Regions from separate parts of the Homo sapiens genome. Here region 2 is linked to region 1. Evidence: fine-mapped expression QTL. Tissue or cell type: thyroid. Region 1 holds a variant in brackets; the other region holds the start of a gene. All regions are shown on one strand. Distances are between the middles of the regions. Region 1 overlaps CATSPERG (catsper channel auxiliary subunit gamma). Region 2 holds the start of CATSPERG (catsper channel auxiliary subunit gamma).

What was found. PIP is the estimated chance that this variant, and not a neighbour inherited with it, causes the effect. A credible set is the group of variants that fine-mapping cannot tell apart.
Region 2: CATSPERG starts here. The variant in region 1 is the best candidate, but not a certain one, in a credible set for the expression of CATSPERG in thyroid (GTEx, PIP 0.69).

The regions. Positions count from the first base shown.
Region 1 is chr19:38,356,441-38,359,451 of GRCh38, reverse strand. CATSPERG (catsper channel auxiliary subunit gamma) reads right to left here. Exons shown (of 29, transcript NM_021185.5): 10 at 2,909-2,968; 11 at 2,591-2,710; 12 at 1,124-1,174; 13 at 891-1,020. Among named protein-coding and RNA genes, the nearest start is that of PSMD8, 17 kb to the left of the region's middle. The variant G/C (reference allele first, on the strand shown) is at 1,231.
Region 2 is chr19:38,334,117-38,336,871 of GRCh38, reverse strand. CATSPERG (catsper channel auxiliary subunit gamma) reads right to left here and starts at 1,042. Exons shown (of 29, transcript NM_021185.5): 1 at 997-1,042. RefSeq lists silencers at 255-424, 795-874 and enhancers at 995-1,204, 1,009-1,303.

The DNA.
Region 1 (3,011 bases):
AGAGCTAGGCGCATGCTGGACAGCCGCTTCCCCCAATCCCAGGCCTAATAACACGGGAGCCACTTACTGTTTCTCCACTTGTAAGAACATGCAAAGGAAGCTTGAAATCCTAGCTCCCGCCCCCCACCCCAAACCCTTTGAGAATCTTCAGCTCCCCATCTGTAAAACAGGAGCATTGGGCCAACCTGGCAGTTTGCCAGCCACCCAAGAAGGTGGCTCAGGGGCCCCTAGGTTCCTGAGGGTCGAGAGGGTGGCTGGGGTGGGGAGGATCCTAAACTGTCCCTAGAAAATGTTTGTCAATTAGCCGGGCATGGTGGTTCACACCTGTAATCCCAGCACTCTCGGAGGCTGAGGCAGGAGGATCACCTGAGGTCAAGAGTTTGAGACCAGCCTGCCCAACATGGTGAAACCGCGTCTCTACTAAAAATACAAAAATTAGCCAGGCATGGTGGCATGCAGCTGTAATCCCAGCTACTCGGGAGTCTGATGCAGGAGAATCGCTTGAATCTGGGAGGCGGGGGCTGCAGTGAGCCGAGATTTTGCCACTGTCCTGTAGCCTGGGTGACAGAGTGAGACTCTGTCCCAAAACAAAAACAAAAACAAAAAAAAACCCTAGAAACTGCTCATCTATTGCTCACACAGGCTGGGTCTTTATATAAGGTTTCATTTTAAGAAAAGGGCTCCCACAGCTTTAAAACATTGGCTTCCCCCATCCCAGCACTGACTACCCTAACGGTGTGTTCCTCATCACAGTCCTGGTAACTTCTGGATTTGTGCATCCTTTGAAGGCTTGGTGAGACTTGCCTAGCCTGGGCTTGAAAGGGTCCCCACCGTAAAGTTGCTGGGGAGACAGAGTATGCCTGGCCCACCCAGGGGTGGTAGAGGCCCACCTCTGCAGGAGGAAGTTGCCCCAGATGAAGATCAGATTGTTGTACGGGTTACAGAAGATGCCCTTGGGGGCCATTGCAGTGCTGGTGTAGGACTCTGTCCCTAGGATCATCAGGAACTCCAATCCTCGAGCTGACCGGAGCAGAGGAAGAGAGGACACAGCAGTGAAGTGGAGTCACCTGGGCCCCTCCTGGCCCACAGCCACCCTGAGGCCACGTCTGCCTTCCCTTCCTACCTTCAGGGATGAATTCTGGGATGTGGTAGAGAAGTTCCAGGTCATCACTAGCTACAGGTGGGGAGAACACAGCAAAATCTCCTGAGGCCCTGCACTTTCAAAACCTG[G/C]AGCTGGAGCAAGTTGTTTGCTTCTCAGCCTCCTGTAAAACCCTCCAAAGAGCTTCCCACTCGGGTTTGCTAGTCCTTAGAGTTTCTTTTCTTTTATTTCCCCCCTGAGACAGGATCTCCCTGTCGCCCAGGCTGGAGTGCAGTGGTGTGATCTCAGCTCACTGCAACTTCTGCCTCCTCGGTTCAAGTGATCCTCCCACCTCAGCCTATGGAGTAGCTGGGATTATAGGCGCACACCACCACCATGCCCAGCTAATTTTTTTTTTTTTCGAGATGGAGTCTCGCTCTGTTGCCCAGGCTGCAGTGCAATGGCATGATCTCAGCTCACTGCAACCTCTGCCTCCCAGGTTCAAGTGATTCTTCCACCTCAGCCTCCTGAGTTGCTGGGTTTATAGGTACCCACCATCATGCCCGACTAATTTTTGTATTTTTAGTAGAGACAGGGTTTCACCATGTTAGTCAGGCTGGTCTTGAACTCCTGACCTTAGGTGATCCCCCCGCCTCGGCCTCCCAGAGTGCTGGGATTACAGGCGTGAGCCGCCGTGCCCGGCCAATTTTTGTATTTTTAGTAGAGATGAGGTTTCGCTATATTGCCTAGGCTGGTCTTGAACGCCTGAGCTCAAGCATTCCACCCACCTTGGTGTCCCAAAGTGCCAGGATTATAAGCACGAGCCACCACGCCTGGCTCTGCTCTTTTTTTTTTTTTGAGACCGGGTCTTGCTCTGTCACCCAGGTAGTAGCATGATCATAGCTCACTGTAGCCTCAACCTCCTGGGCTTATGCTATCCTCCCACCTCAGGTATATTCCAAGTAGCTGGGACTACAGGTGCGACTCCATACTCAGCTACTTTTTTTTTTTTTTTTTTTTTAATTTGTAGAGACAGCCTCTTGCCATGTTGCCCCAGGCTGGTCTTGAACTCCTGGCCTCAAGGGATCCTCTGGCCTTGGCCTCCCAAAGTGCTGGGATTACAGGTGTGAGCCCCTTGCCTAGCCCTTTAGAATTTCTTCATGTGAATTATAAAAAGGCACTGCCTGAGAGGAAACAGTCCTGTTAAGGCACAGGACCTGTCTCCTCTGACCCCTCGGTTGGGGGTTTTGTGCACTGCACAGCCTGCACAAATCTACATAGGGGCCCTATTCTCACTGCAGGTAAAATAAAATCTCTTTATTGTGAGCCACAGGGCCCTTTCAGATCACCAAGCCTATATCCTGTTCTCCACTGCTACTCCTCAACCAGGAGTGACACAGGTAATGTTGCCCTCCCTCTGTCTGCTGGGCACAGATCCCTCAGGATGGGCATGCAGTCCACAGTCTGGGATCCTGCCCCTTTGTGCCCAGCCCCTTGCATCACCCTCATTACCTGTGTTGTAGCTGACCACCTGGAAACGTTTACTTGCATTACCATATCCACTCTCCACCAGCAGCAGTAGAGTATACTCACCCGCGATGTATTCAGACCAAATTATGGAGCAGGTGGTAACTGAGAGGGAAAGGGGCAGTCCAGAGCCGCCCCAGGGCTCAATAGCCTTGGTCCTGTGCCAGCTGTACCCCTCCCCATAACTCACCCCTCCCTAAGACACTGCCCATTCTTTCCCATGACCCCTGCCACCCTCCCCTGCTCTTCTGCATCCTCAGTTCCCCCAGCCTCCCACCGCAGACCCATCGGGGTAATGAGTACCTCCTATCTGCTCGCACACAGACCACTGCCTGGGCAGCATCTCAAAGGACACCTGGCCATCTGCAGAGCAAGGTCGGGTTCATGTTCAGGCCCTCTCCCTCCT
Region 2 (2,755 bases), 22 kb after region 1:
CCTGCTCCTCCGCCTCGTTCCGCCCCGCCGCCTCCACGTCTCTTCCTTTAACTTTATCCTCACCTTGCTCCTTATTCCGCCCCCTCCCTGTATTCCACTCTTGCTCTTCACCTGGTCTTGGTTTCTATTTCTCGCTTTGACAGTCCCCCTCTTAAGTTCCCCCGTACTGCTTCTGCCTGCGATCGCACCCGTGTACTTCCACCCGGCTGTGCCCCAACCTCTTGCCCCACCCTCGCACTTCTCTTGGTATCGCCGCTTTCTCCTCGCTCGGGGTCTGCCCAGGGGCTGGGTACTGTACCTGGTCTCGCCCGTCTCCGGGCCCCGCCCCTGCTCTTGCTCCCGGCCCCGCCCCTGCTCTTGCTCCCGGCCGGGCCCCCGTTTCTCGCCCGGGGCTTGCTCCTCACTCTGCTTCCGCTCCTGACCGCGCCCCTACTCCTCCACTTGGTCTTTATGGACCCGTTCCTTCCCCGGGTTCTCGGCGATTGGTTCTTCCCGCGCGGGCCCGTCGCCCCGTCCCGCCCTCTGGTAACGCCCCTCCTCCTCGCCCTGCCCCTTCTCGATGAAAACTGTCTCTTCGCCTCGGGATCTTTCCTCGCCCTTCGTTGTTTCCTCGCCCCACACCTTCTCCTTCCACGCCGGCACCAGCTTCTTAGCCGGCACCTTCTTGAGTCTCACCTTCCCCTCGTACCGCGACACCTTCTTGCCCCACTTCTTACTCTTCCTTCCCATGCCATTAACACCTGCCTGCTCTATACCCCGACTCTCCTGCCCCGCCCCGCCCTTCGCCCTTCACGTTCGGCTCCCCCTTTCCCTCCTCTGCCAGCTCCCACGACTCTTCCCCTCTTTCCCTCCTCTCCCAGCTCCCACGACTCTTCCCCTCTTTCCCCTGCCTCTCCCCTTCTCGCCTTCCCCTTCCCCTCCCCTTCCTAGTTCCTCCCCGTCCCCGGCATCCCCCCGCCCCTGGATGGCACAGCTTTTTCCCCGGCCCCGTGGTACCAGTCACTTGGTTAAAACCGGTCAACTGTCACTCGGCCGCACCAGTCCCGCCCCTCTTGCCCGGTCTCAAAATGGCCGCCCACACTTCCACAGCCGACTTCCGCCTTTGCAGAGGCACGCCCTCCTCTCACGCGGTCTCCAAGGTGACGCGCAACCCCTAAGGCACCGAGGGCTGGAGGCTGTCTCAGCACTGAGGGCGCGGGGCCTGGTCGGCAGAGGGTGCTGGAGACTACGTTTGTGCCAGGAAGGCCTTCAAGGAGTTTCTATTGGTTGTTCTGGCAGCAAGCACGGTCCCTACTTGTGCTTCCTACCCAAATATATATATATATATATTTTTTTGAGACGGAGTTTCGCTCTTTCTCCCAGGCTGGAGTGTGAAGTGGCGCGATTTCGGCTCACTGAAACCTCCGCGCCCCTGCCCCGGATTCAAGCGATTCTCCTGCCTCAGCCTCCCGAGTAGCTGGGATTATAGGCTCCCGCCACCACGCCTGGCTAATTTATTTTTTGTATTTTTAGTAGAAACGGGGTTTCATCATGTTGGCCAGGCTGGTCTCGACTCCTGACCTCAGGCGAACCACCCGCCTCGGCCTCCCAAAGTGCTGGGATTACAGGCGTGAGCCACTGCGCCCGGCCCTACCCCAAAATTCTACTCCTTAAAAAAGTGTGGTTTCCTGGAGACCTTGTGAGAATGAATAGGCTGCTTAGCACCGTCCTCTACAAAACAGGACAAGGACAGCCATCCTATACTGTTGTGGGAAGTGTGCCCGGCTCAAGTAAAATATTCATTAAGTTAATTTTCATTTGCATTCTGATGCCTTACAGGTAAGGATTCAGGCCATGACTTTTTGATGAACTCCAGACCAGACGTTTAACCCAGTGGTTTTCAAATTTGAGCATGCATTAGACTCACCTAAAAGGCTGGGTAAGCCAGGTTGGTGGGTACCACACCCTGAGTTTTTGTTTTTGTTTTAAAGATGGAGTCTCTGGCTGGGCATAGTGGCTCATGCCTATAATCCCAGCACTTTGGAAAGCTGAGGCAGGCGGATCACTTGAGGTCTGAAGTTGGATACCAGCCTGGCCAACATGATAAAACCTTGTCTCTACCAAAAAATACAACAATTAGCCGGGCATGGCGGCGGGCACCTGTAATCCCAGCTACTCGGGAGGCTGAGGCAGGAGTTGCTTGAACCCAGGAGGCGGAGGTTGCAGTGAGCCGAGATCCCTCCACTGCACTCCAGCCTGGGCGACAGAATGAGACCCTGTCTCAAAAAAAAAAAAAAAAATTAAGCCAGATGTGGTGCTGCACACCTGTAATCCCAGTACTTTGGGAGGCTGAGGTAGGAGGATCGCTTGAGGCCAGCCTGGGCAATATGGTAAGACCCTGTTGCTAACAATTTTTTTAAATTAGCCCAGTGTGGTGGTCCATCCCTGTGACCCCAGCTACCTGGGAGGTTGAGGCAGGAAGACCACTTGAGCCCAGGAGTTTGAGGCTGCAGTGAGCTCTGAAATACACGGAAATGCAGTGAGCTGTGATCACACCACTGCATTTCAGCCTGGGCAAAAGAGCAACACCCTATCTCAGGTTAGCCTTGAATTTCAGGCCTCATGTGAGCCTCCCATCTCAGCCTCCTGAGTAACTACCTGGCTACTTCCAGAATTTTTCATTCAGTAGATCTGGAGTGGGGCCTGATAATTTGTATTTCTGGCAAGTTCCTAGGTGATGCTGATACTAGTGGTCTGGAGACCACACCTTGAGAAC